Homo sapiens: one gene and its partner. The protein of the gene in region 2 interacts with the protein of the main gene of each other region in a pairwise test. Each region holds a gene or a part of one and is shown on either strand. Other genes may lie near its edges.

Region 1 (7,053 bases), on a different chromosome or scaffold from region 2:
ATGGCCCCTATCACAGGAGAAACTAACTCAACTTCAGCAGTAGAAAAAGAGCAACTGGATGCAGGCCATAAAGAGGAGTCGGTTAGCCACTGGAATTCACCAGTGTTTGTAATTCCAAAGAAGTCAGGAAGATGGCGACTGCTGCATGATTTGAGAGCTATTAATGCACAAATTAAACTGATGGGTGCATTACAACAAGGCTTGCCATCTGCAGCCGTCATTCCTAGAGACTGGCCTCTTGTAGCAATAGACCCCCTTTTTTTTTTTTTTTTCCGAGATGGAGTCTCGCTCTGTCGCCCAGGCTGGAGTGCAGTGGTGCGATCTCGGCTCACTGCAAGCTCCGCCTTCCGGGTTCACGCCATTCTCCTGTTTCAGCCTCCCAAGTAGCTGGGACTACAGGTGCCTGCCACCATGCCTGGCTAATTTTTTTTTTTTTTGTATTTTTAGTAAAGACGGGGTTTCACCATGTTAGGCAGGATGGTCTTGATCTCCTGACCTCATGATCCACCCACCTCGGCCTCCCAAAGTGCTGGGATTACAGGCGTGAGCCATTGCGCCCGGCATAGACCTTTCTTTACTATACCCTTACACGAGAAGGATAAGCCTGGATCTGCCTTCTCTGTGCCTTCTATTCATCCAAGAGAACCTGTTTCTCTTTATCAAAGGAAAGTTTTACCCCAAGACATGCTTTACAGTCCTACGCTGTCAGCATTTTGTAGGACAAACATTGAAGGAGACTCTGAATATGTTTCCTACTGCTCACATCATTCATTTCATGGATGACATTCTTTTGGCCACTCCTACAGATCAAATCTTACATCAGTTATTCAGAGAAAGGAAGCAGGCTTTGACTAAATGGAATCTCAAAATTGGTCCAGAGAAAGTACAAGCAACTTCCCCATACCATTACTTAGGCACTATTGTTACTGAAAGAAGTGTTCGGCCTCAGAAAGTAGTTCTCCATAAAGACAGGTTACAGATTTTAAATGATTTTCAACAGTTGTTAGGGGATATTCATTGGCTGTGCGCAATGCTAGGTATTGCAACTTATCGACTCAAACATCTTTATCAAACCCTGCAAGGAGATTCTTCATTAGATTTCCCCGCAGCAATTGACCAAAGAGGCAGAAGCTGAGTTGCAACTTGTAGAACAGATGCTTCAGCAGAGACATGCCTCATGGCTGTAGCCGCAAAAGCCTTTGCTTATTCTTCATACCCCTCATTCTCCAACAGGACTCCTGGGCCAGTGCTTAGACAAGTCTGTATCAGTAATAGAATGGCTCTTTCTACCTAATCAAACAGTTAAAACCTTGCAAGCCTATCTTCCTTTAATTACACAACTTGTGACTATAGGTAGGCATAAATTAAAAGTGCTTATGGGGTATGATCCAGACGCAATTATTGTTTCCTTGGATTCCCAACAACAGGCCACAGCATGGGAAATATCGACTGTGTAGCAAATTGCTCTTGCAGATTTTGTGGAAATAATAGACAACCACTCTCCATCGGACAAAGTTTTACAATTTTATAATGTCTATTATTTTATCTTCCCTGTGATTACTCATCACGAGCCTATTCCAGGTGGTCAGGCCTATTTTACCGATGGCTCTTCCAAAGGGCGTGCAGCTATGTTGGGACCTAAACATACTCAGACAATAAGGATCTCTGGACTTTCAGCTCAACGCTCAGAGTTAATTACAGTCATTCTAGTTTTAGAGCTCACAGCTTCAACTCCCATTAACATTGTCTGTGATTCAGCCTATGTCGTAAATGTAGCCAGTCGCATAGAAACTGCTACAATTAAAAGCACACTAGAGCCAGAACTGCTTAGCTTGTTTCTAAGACTTCAACAAGCTGTTCGCTCTCATGCTGCTCCTTTACATATTTCTCATATTTGCTCTCACATACAACTCCCTGGACCACTATCTCTAGGTAATGATAGAGCAGATAAACTGGTTTGTTCTGTATTTCAACAAGCTCAAACTTCTCAGGCAATACTGCCTCAAAACACCTCGCCCTTACTCGTATGTTTCACCTGCCTCACAGCCAGGCTCGAACTATGGCGCAAGCCTGTCCCACTTGTCAGCATGTCCCTGGTGTTATACCTGTGGAAGGATGCAATCCACAAGGCTTGGCTCCAAATGAAATTTGGCAGATGGATGTTACACATATAGCAGCCTTTGGCAAGCTTAGCTATGTTCATGTAACTATAGACACTTAATCTCATATGCTGCATTCTACATGCCAAACAGGCGAGACAGCTGCTCATGTGCGGTGACATTGTCGGTCATCATTTGCTCATATGGGGATCCCTAAACAATTAAAAACGGACAATGGACCTGCTTATACTTAGCCATGTTTTTCAAAACTTTTTACAGTTATGGGCAATCACCCACAAAACAGGAATACCTTACAATCCCTGAGGACAAGGCATTATAGAGTGGGCACATCAAACATTACAATGCATGTTGAAAAAACAGAAAGGGGGTATAGGAGACCAGCTACCACCTCAAATAAAATTACATTTAGCCTTATTTACTTTAAATTGTTTGACTCCTGGTCTGGATGGTAAGACTCCAGCAGAAAGACATTGGCAAGTGTTAGAGGAAAAGAGGAAAGTTTATCTGAAAGTGTTATGGAAATCCCTGGAAGAAGGACAATGGAAAGGTCCGGTGGATTTACTGACATGGGGATGAAGGTATGCTTGTGTTTCTACAGGAGATGGACACACCATGTGAGTGCCCTCAAGGTGCGTGCCACCATGGAACGGGAAACTGGAGGGACCCATGGTGGCCAACAATGGGCTTGGTCCCTCCGGTACAACCCATGAGCCAGCTGAGCCTGAGTGTGAAGACGGAGAGAAGGCTGACCGGAGTCACAACGACATCAACCCCCATAACCTGGGGACAACTCAAGAAAACCATGCAAGAAGCTGAGAAACTACTGGAGCGTCAGGGACAGGCAAAAACCCCTGATGCCATGTTCTTGGCCTGTCAGCCATAATGTCCTGTGCAGTATGTTTTCCCTGTACAGAGGTAAAAACATATTGGGCATATGTTCCCAATCCCCCAGCAGTACGGCCTATACTTTGGAGTGACGCTCTTTCTGAAATCTATCATGATCAGGGACCGTGGGCTCCAGGACCCCTAACTCCCCATGGCATAGAACAGTTAGACTCTTAGAACAATGTCATCAATTATACCACCCCACTAGAAGGACTCCCTTTGTGTATCACCACAGAGATGTCACTCAACAGTAGCTGTCTTATAATTCAAGCTCAAGCATGGTGGAATCACTATGGAAAAGTCATGTACTTATTATGTTTTGGTTCCATTAATGTAACTGGTGTGCTAACCAACCATTCCCGGCCCAGTCGCCCCACCTGTGCTGACTATATGGAATGGATTCCCTTCCATAGTTCCTACCCCCCTCCATGGACCCAGAGTCTTGGCCCATAGAAAACAATCTATGTTAACTGCAGACATTGTGGATTGGGGACCTAAAGGTCAACTACATGGAAAAGATGAAAATTAGAAATCATGGCACAAACTTGGCTGGCATTGGTGGTAAGCTTTTAATACTTCTTCTTTATACCACACCGGGATCCAATCCCAGTCTGCTGCCCAGATTGCTTGGTGTGGAGCAGGCTTTAGCTCACCTCTTCCTCAGTGGCATTATCCAGGCAGGCAAGGACCAATCCAAAAGACGTTATGGAAGGCAGCACCTTCATTTATGAATGGCAGCATCGGGGTTGGGATACTATCCAATAATAGCAATAGTAAGCAACACAGTTTTAATGCTACACTTGTAAAGAATATCACCACTCAGTTTACGGTTTGTGTTTTTAATCCTTATGTCTTTTTGGCAGCTAAGAAGGATTAGCTCCAGGTAAACAATACCCAATTGACCTGTAAATCTTGTCAGTTATATCACTACATTAATCATAGCACATTGCAAATACATAATATCTCTTTTTTTTTTTTGAGACAGAGCCTTGCTCTGTTGCCAAGCTTGAGTGCGGTGGCACGATCTCGGCTCACTGCAACCTCTGCCTCCTGGGTTCAAGCAATTCTCCTGCCTCAGCCTCCTGAGTAGCTGGGATTACAGGTGCCCGCCACCATGCCTGGCTAATTTTTGTATTTTTAGTAGAGACGGGGTTTCACCATGTTGGCCAGGCTGGTCTCGAACTCCTGACCTTGTAATCCACCTGCCTTGGCCTCCCAAAGTGCTGGGATTACAGGCGTGAGCCACTGTGCCTGGCCACAAACACATAATATCTCTACTTTGATGATTTTGGGTTGCATCCCTGGGCTATGGATTCCCATTAATCTGTCCAAGCCTTGGGCTGCCACCCCTGCTTTGCACTTTGTGAAACTTCTTCTAACTCAGCTTACTCATCGTGCCCGTAGAGCCTTAGGCATGATAATTTTGGCTATTGTTTCCTTGGTCACACCAAAAACTTCTGTTGTGATGTACTCCATCACTTTGCATAGTTCTATTCAAACAGTTCAGTACGTGCAGAACTGGATGCATACAGCCAACCAAGTGTGGCTACTTCATAATAGAATTAACACTGAGTTACAAACTGAAGTGGCAATGTTGAAATCCATAGTTCTATGGTTAGGGGAACAAGCACAAAGCTTACAATTGCAACAGCAATTGTGCTGTCATCTTAATGCCACTCATATTTGTGTAAACAACTTAGAATACAACCAAAGTGAGCATCCACGGGACCTTTGATATTGGTGAACTGCAAAACAAAATTCTTGACTTAAATAAGCAAACTCAAGAGTTTCAGCCTTCCTTAGAAGTCTGGAGTGAATTCCTGCAAGGCCTAGAGAGCCTCAATATTTGGACCAATCTAAAGCACTATATTAACATCTCATATATAGTTATTGGAATGATGTTGTTTAGTCTCTGTTTTTTGTTCATAGTCTGTAAAATCAGATGGACCGCCAATCAGAAAATGAGAGCTGCCCAACCTGGCCTTACATTCATTCAATTAATGCATAAACAGAAAGGGAGAGATGTTGGGAGCCCAAGGCCCAAAGGTTGTGACCAACTCAGCTTTCCACTGAAGGCTATATGATAAACAGTGAACTGTTTATCATGAATGCAGAATGTGGGCAAACTCACATCTGCTTCTGCTGCCAGAAGGTATACTGAGGACAATCACTCCCTGGTGCTGTGCTGCTTGAGGTTATCTACTGGGACATCTGGAGCCTATTGTTTGAAAAATGCAGTCATGCAGGCCTGCTCTAAATCAAGTAGCTGACCTACAACCACCCGCTTCTCTCTATCCCCTTTACTCAGTAAACATGAAGGGTGCTAGAAGCTCGGGGCCCACGTTCACTACAAGCAAGAAGCCCCCTGACCCCTTGTTCCAAACATATTCTTTTGCCTTTGTCTTTATTCCCGCATTCGTCCTCCTTTGTTCAATCCAGTAGGGTCCGTGGTACCTAACGACCCTGAAATCAAATTGAAATACAACTCTTGAAAATTACTAATTTAGGCCAGGCGTGGTGGCTCACACCTGTAATCCCAGCACTTTTGAGAGTCCAAGGCAGGTGGATCACGAGGTCAAGAGTTCGAGACCAGCCTGGCCAACATGGTGAAACCAAGTCTCTACTAAAAATACAAAAATTAGCCAGGCGTGGTGGCAGGCGCCTGTAATCCCAGCTTCTCAGGAGGCTGAGGCAGGAGAATCGCTTGAAACTGGAAGGCAGGGGTTGCAGTGAGCCGAGATTGCACCACTGCACACCACCCTGGGCAACAAGAGTGAAACTTCGTCTCAAAAAAAATAAATAAATAAAATTACTAATTTATAGAAAAATGAAATTTATGCTTAATCAGGCACAGTCCACCAATTAACCTCTGATTACATAACTAGAAATTTTCTACCTATATAGGCTGTTGGAAGAAGTAAGTCAGGCCAGCCATGGTGGCTCACACCTGTAATCCCGCCACTTTGGGAGGCCAAGGTGGGTGGACCACTTGAGGACAGGAGTTGGAGACCAGCCTGGCCAATGTGATAAAACCCTGTCTTTACTAAAAATACAAAAATTAGCCGAGTATGGTGGCATGTACCTGTAATCCCAGCTACTTGGGAGGCTAAGGCAGGAGAATTACTTGAACCTAGGAGGTGGAGGCTGCAGTGAGCTGAGATTGCACCACTGCACTCCAGCCTAGACGACAGAGTGAGACCCCGTCTCAAGACAAACAAACAAACAAAAACAACCAAGTAATTCAAATATTTAAGCTGGTGCATCTCTAAACTGTCTTGAAGCAATGTGATCATGGGGTTGAGTCACATGACACACAGCTTTCAAATAGCCAGCTGGAACACCTCTTTCCTTGATTACAGATTCGCCTTCCTTCTTACCTATACTGTTTTATAAAATGTTGTAAATGACTGAAGGGAAACAGGAAAGACCCTTTCCCTCTTTGCTATTTTTAATTTATTTAATATGATTTTTCACAATTGAGATGGGGGGTCTCACTATGTTGCCCAGGCTTGAACTCCTGAGATCAAGCCATCCACCTGCCTCAGCCTCCCAAAGTGCTGGGGTTACAGGTGTGAGCCATCCCACTGGGCCCCTCTTCACTACTGATCTCTGTAGTAGACTAACTTCCCTCTTAACTTTCTCACACAAAGACTTCATGGCTATCACATTGTCTTCAGTTGGAATGTTGAATTCACTCTTTTAAATTGAAAAGGAAATAAAAACCAGCTAGAAAGAAAAGAAAACAAGCTCTGGGGGAAAAAAGCAAACGATAACAAATTAAGTTGTTAGCCAGGTGCACTGGCTAACGCCTGCAATCCCAAGACTTGTGGAGGCCAAAGAAGGAGGACTGTTTGAGGCCAGGAGCTAGAGACAAGCCTGGGCAATGTATCGAGACCCCACCTCCATAAAAAATTAAAAATTACCCAGGTGTGGTAGTGGGCGACTATAGTCTCAGCTACTTGGGAGGCGGAGGTGCTCAAGATGGGGAAGTCAAGGCTGCAGTAAGCCGTGATGGCACCACTGCTCCAGCCTGGGCCACAGAGCAAGA
Region 2 (5,798 bases):
ATGTAAATAAAATTCTTACACAGCCTCCCCCTCCTGAATACCTGTTGACAAAGTCAATGAAACTAAGTTATTCCTTGTAAAATACAGACCACACCTTATGCCACATTAAGACAATTTGTCCCCTAATCGAAATGTTATGAGGAAAATTAAGTAAGGAATTAAGCTGGGAATTGAGAAAGTACGCAATGGGTATGTAAGACGTGGCACAATCCATAATCTCTAAACCAAGGAAGGGAATGAAAGAACCTTCTGAATTTTGTAAGACCAATATGAGGCATCTAAAGAAACTGAAAACGGTGTTTGCAGGGAAATCAGAAGAATGTAAGAAAGGAGCAAAGTAGAACGTGTGCATTCATAGAAGTCATGATAGACAGAGGTTGGTGCTTTTGGTTCTGAACTGGTGCAAGCTAAGCATTCACTCAGGGAAAGATAGATTGATACTGGCTCTGAGAGAAATACAAAGTTTGGGGACCTGGGTCACCTTCTTGCGACCTCCTACCAGCATGGGAGTGGTAGAAATACCTCTGATGAGCTAACAATGTAGATTTCCATGACAGATGCCAACTTCTGAGACTGTGAATCTAGAATGCTCTGAAGACTTGGCTGAGGGATGAAGGCCACTTACTGTGATCATCGTTCAGGGATGAAGTAAAGGACATGAAAACTAGGACATTCCTTTTGACTAGCATCAGTTATGAAAGGTGAATAAGTTCAGCATGTCTACTGTACAGTAGTGTCACTATAGTTGTAAACACTGTATCATACACCTGAAATTTGCCAAGAAGTTAGATCTTATATGTTCACACCACAAAAATAAAAAGGAAATGGTAACTACGTGGGCTAATAAACATGTTATTCACAATGGATATATATATTAGAGCATCATCTTCCATACCTGAAATAGACACAATTTTTATTTGTCAATTACACCTCAATACAGCTCGAAAAAGTATTTGGTTGATCTGGTTAATTATTACAAAAATATTCTTATCTTCAACATTAAAATTAGAAATTTTCTGAACAAAAACACTAATTCTGGGCTGCCTGCTATAGGAGACATATTGGCTAAATGCTTTGTGTACACTATTATTAATTCTTTTTTTTTTTTTTTGAGATGGAGTCTTGCTCTGTCACCCAGGCTGGGGTGCAGTGGTACAATCTTGACTCACTGCAAGCTCTGCCTCCCTGGTTCATGCCATTCTCCTGCCTCAGCCTCTCGAGTAGCTGGGACTATAAGCACCCGCCACCACGCCCGGCTAATTTTATGTATTTTTAGTAGAGACGGGGTTTCAACATTTTAGCCAGGATGGTCTCGATCTCCTGACCTTGTGATCCGCCCGCCTCGGCCTCCCAAAATGCTTGGATTACAGGCGTGAGCCACTGCACCCGGCTATTATTAATTCTTTAACAAACTTTCAAAACAGGTATTAATGTTCCCTTTGTAGAGATGAAAAAATTGAGGCTGAGAGAGTTAGTGTATTGTCATAGATTAGTTTCTCCCAGAAGAGACTCTGAGGAAAGCATTCCAGTGAAACTAGTTTATTCGGAAGTGCAGATCACACTGGTAGGGATTGGGGAAGTGATACAGAAAAGGGTACACTATCAAGTCAGTATCACAGTCACCAACTAAAGCTTAAACTAAAGGGAAAACTATCAGAAATGACAAAAAAACACACAGCTAGAGTTATCCTACTTCAGGAATGAGGAAGCTAGAGTCTTTATAAATCAGCTCTCCAGAATCATTGGTTGAGAGTTTTTCTCTGTGTTGCATTCACAGGTGACATGACTTCTTACAGCAGCAATACAAGAGCTCTTAGGCACAGAGATGCAGATTCTAACAGATGGAAATTAGTCCAAGCACACTAAGATCTAATATATATGGGTGCAGTCATGAAAACTTATCTATGATCTACAATTAGCTCCACTCAAGTAAAACCTTTGCTACTTAAATGTGATGGACAGGCACAAGCTCTAGAAGAAGGAAGAAGAGGAGGTGAGAAAGAGGAGTAAGAGAAGGGACAGAAGATGAGTGGAGGACAAAAGAAAGAAAGAGAGAGAGAGAAAGAGAAAAAGAAGGAAGGAAGGGAGAGAGAGAGAAAGAAAGAAAGAGAGAAAGAAAGAAAGAAGAAAGAAAGAAAGAGAAAGAAAGAAAGAGAAAGAAAGAAAGAAGAAGAAAGGAAGGAAGAAAGGAAGGAAGAGGAAGGAGAGAGAAGAAGGAAATGAAAAGAAAGGAGAGGAAGTGAGATGTAAAATGAAGGCCAATGAAATAAGCTACACTTACTGCTGCTATAGTACAGTGCACCTGAGATTCACAGTCTCCGTTTATTACCACCAGTTCTATTCTCCCTTCACCGCTGGCCAGCACTCTTCTTGGTCTGGATAACTGCCTGATAACTGCCTTGATAACTTCCTTCCTAAATTGTCTGAGCCTCTAGTTACTATACCACTGTCCACTGTGATTGCTGTTCTTACCGATTTGTAGTTATCACTGGACATGGACACACTATGAGATTCTCCAGTGTTATGGGTTAATTTGTGTCCCCCAAAACTCATATTCAAATAGAATCATTTAAAGTGTTATGTGATAAGGCAAGGTCATATTGGAAACAATTAGGCCTCTGATTAAATATGACTGATGTCTATATAAAAGGGGGAAATTCAGAGACAGCATGCATATAACAGAAAAATTATATCAAACACACATGGAAATGATAGACATCAACAAGTCAAGGAGAGAGACCTGGAACATGTACTTCCCTCACAGGCTTCAGATGAAAACAACATTGCCAAAACCTTAATTTCTGAACTGTGAAAAGATAAATTTAAGCCACTTGGTTTACAGTAATTTATTATGGCAGTGCTGGTAAGTTAATACACTTACTAAGTATCCTGAGCTATAGATATATTCTGCTACACTATATGGCTTAAAGATAATTACCCCTCACCAAATAGTAACTCCTTTCTCTGTCTGCTGCTCTGCTGACGGGAAGAGTCCAAAATGACTAGGCGATAACGATTCCTTTTGATTATAACAAAGAAACAGAGAAGCAAATACTATAATTTTTATTCACATGGAAATTTTAAAAAGCCAAAGTCATCTACTGGATTATAACTTGATAGAGTGATTAGCTGTTTGGAAATGAGTAAGCGGATATAATTGGGAGAGAATGGCATTAATTTCTATTTCCTAACCTGGTAATGGGGACATAGATGTATTTACAATGTAATACTATATCAGGTTGGAAATTAATAATTTGCATTCTTCTCAAGTGAATGATATACCTAGACAATGTTTTCAACATGTTAGAACTCCACGATGAATCAGGTGTCATCTCAACTCATCTAATCCCTTCATTGAAAAGAAATAGAAGAAATTACTTCTACTTACTTCTTCTTCTAGTTACTGCTAGTAACTAGGTTTAGGGCTAGAGCCACAGCACATGCTGGTTGGCCTGAATTTCAACGCTTACTTCTAGTTACTGCTAGTAACTAGGTTTAGGGCTAGAGCCAGAGCACATGCTGGTTGGCCTGAATCTCAAGAAGTTACGTGATAGAAAGTCCTCCATTCTCATCCCGGAAATCCCCACACTCCCAGACAAGTCAGAATGAATGGTCGTCCTAGGGCATACATTGCTTGATGCTGTCTAAATCTCAGCAGATTTCTCTGCATCCACCTGTTCTCGATCTGCTCTGTCGCATGGAACACACTGTGCAGTCACCGTCTTCCCAAGTGACATTCAAAGAACTGAAAGACACAGATGATGTGGGTGGCACAAAGAGATGCCTGTTAGTCTTGAGTCAGAATTTGGTGGGTGAATAGTCTTGGGCCCAGGCATGGATTCATTTTGTCACTGTAAATATATCAGCATCATGCTTCTCCCCACAGACACTTCCAAGTCTATATACAGCCAAACATGAGGCTGGCCAGAGAGAACTTCCTGAGCCCCCCGGATCAACAGGAACTGTCACATGACCAGATGATGGTCAGAGCAGGAATGATGCTGATGATGAGACGGGCTTCCTTTTATCTGAAACAAACTTTCTATGAGTAACTCACAATTAAGAAACAGATTAAACCCTTAGTTTAAAAGGTTCATAAGATTTCAGTAACAACTTCCCCTTTGACAATCCCAAATGGACTGTGGAAAACAATGTAAACAGCAACAAGGAAAAGTCCTGCTGATTGGTGGAAACTTTGGAGGCCAGGTGTATAAAAGGTCCAGATTGCAAGGGGTCATCAGATTTTGGGAAACTCACCTCTTAACAGAAGCCCACCCTCCATCCCTGACACCATGACCCACTGTTGCTCCCCTTGCTGTCAGCCTACCTGCTGCAGGACCACCTGCTGGCAGCCCACCACTGTGACCACCTGCAGCAGCACACCCTGCTGTCAGCCCTCCTGCTGTGTTTCCAGCTGCTGCCAGCCTTGCTGCCACCCAACTTGCTGTCAAAACACCTGCTGTAGGACCACCTGCTGCCAGCCCATCTGTGTGACCAGCTGCTGCCAGCCTTCCTGCTGTAGCACACCCTGCTGCCAGCCCACATGCTGTGGGTCCAGCTGTGGTCAGAGCAGCTCCTGTGCACCTGTGTACTGCAGAAGAACCTGCTACCACCCCACAAGTGTTTGTCTGCCTGGTTGCCTAAACCAGAGCTGTGGCTCCAACTGCTGCCAGCCCTGCTGCCGCCCAGCCTGCTGTGAGACCACCTGCTGCAGGACCACTTGTTTCCAGCCCACCTGTGTGTACAGCTGCTGCCAGCCTTCTTGCTGCTAATCAACTCCCAAGAGAACTACCATCCTCACACAACAACCTTCAGCTCAACTGACTTGTCTTTTGAGGGACTAATTTACTTTGCTGCTGACAGCCACCATGCTCTCACCCAAATTTTTATGAATTCTCTACATGTTTAAAATCTTGGGAATCTGCTTGAGGGAGGGCAGAATACTTCATCCTCATTCCCTCTTTCCTTACACCTTGTGGATCATGTGCCAGCTTCGTCTGTTCTTAATTTGGAGTCATGATCTCAGCTTTGTCTCAAAAATCAAGAGCTTCATTCTTTGCTTCTAAGGAATTTAGGTTTCTGCAACTGATCAATCATCTTTGCAATTATATTTTCATTTTAAATATCCTTCTCATGGTTCTTGTATCCTTCTTTCTTCTTTTCACGATAACTTTGGGTTATGTCTCTGGTAGCAGAGATTCTTACCTATATGTTTCTGAATAAACTCTGAACCATCTTCATCTCATATAGTGTTTTGTTTTATTTGAAAGCATTCCTGATATGGGATTTACACACATATCACATACCATAGGTATTATCCAATTTGATTCTCAAAACAGATGGTCGTGTATTATTAACTCCATTTTTTCAGCTGAGAACAATTTAATGTGTGATGTTATGTAGCTAGTAAAGGGCAGACTCTGGTCAAAGGTGAGGTCCTCTCTTTCTGCCCAAGGACACTTACGTTTAACTCCCAATATAGTAGAAAAGACACTGGAAGTCAGCACTAGCAAGACATGTACTTGAGTTTATTTAACAATGAGAGGAATAATCTGACATATTTGCAGATAACACTTTTGTTCACACACAAAAAAATCCCAAAGTAGTTCCCCACACCTCAGTGAGCAAAGGCTGCATGATATGCATTTAATGGCTGCCCTGAATGCAGAGATCTTTTTGTCTGAGCCTCTGACCAGCCATTCATTCAATTCATCTGCATCAAAAAATGCTTGAGAATTTATTGTGGACTCAGGAGACGGAGCCTCATCTGAAGAAACTTATTCTCAGTGTGATGTAAA

What was found. Proteins that work in one complex are often made in the same cells at the same time.
Region 1: the proteins of KRTAP9-3 (region 2) and ZNF439 interact in binary tests that used the Homo sapiens proteins (3 or more experiments, as listed by UniProt).

What each region holds. Positions count from the first base shown.
Region 1 is NC_000019.10:11,851,687-11,858,739, reverse strand, and holds part of ZNF439 (zinc finger protein 439), read right to left. Parts: intron 1-7,053. UniProt on the Homo sapiens protein: May be involved in transcriptional regulation.
Region 2 is NC_000017.11:41,228,210-41,234,007, forward strand, and holds KRTAP9-3 (keratin-associated protein 9-3), read left to right. Parts: upstream 1-4,239; 5' UTR 4,240-4,292; coding exon 4,293-4,772; 3' UTR 4,773-5,245; downstream 5,246-5,798. UniProt on the Homo sapiens protein: In the hair cortex, hair keratin intermediate filaments are embedded in an interfilamentous matrix, consisting of hair keratin-associated proteins (KRTAP), which are essential for the formation of a rigid and resistant hair shaft through their extensive disulfide bond cross-linking with abundant cysteine residues of hair keratins.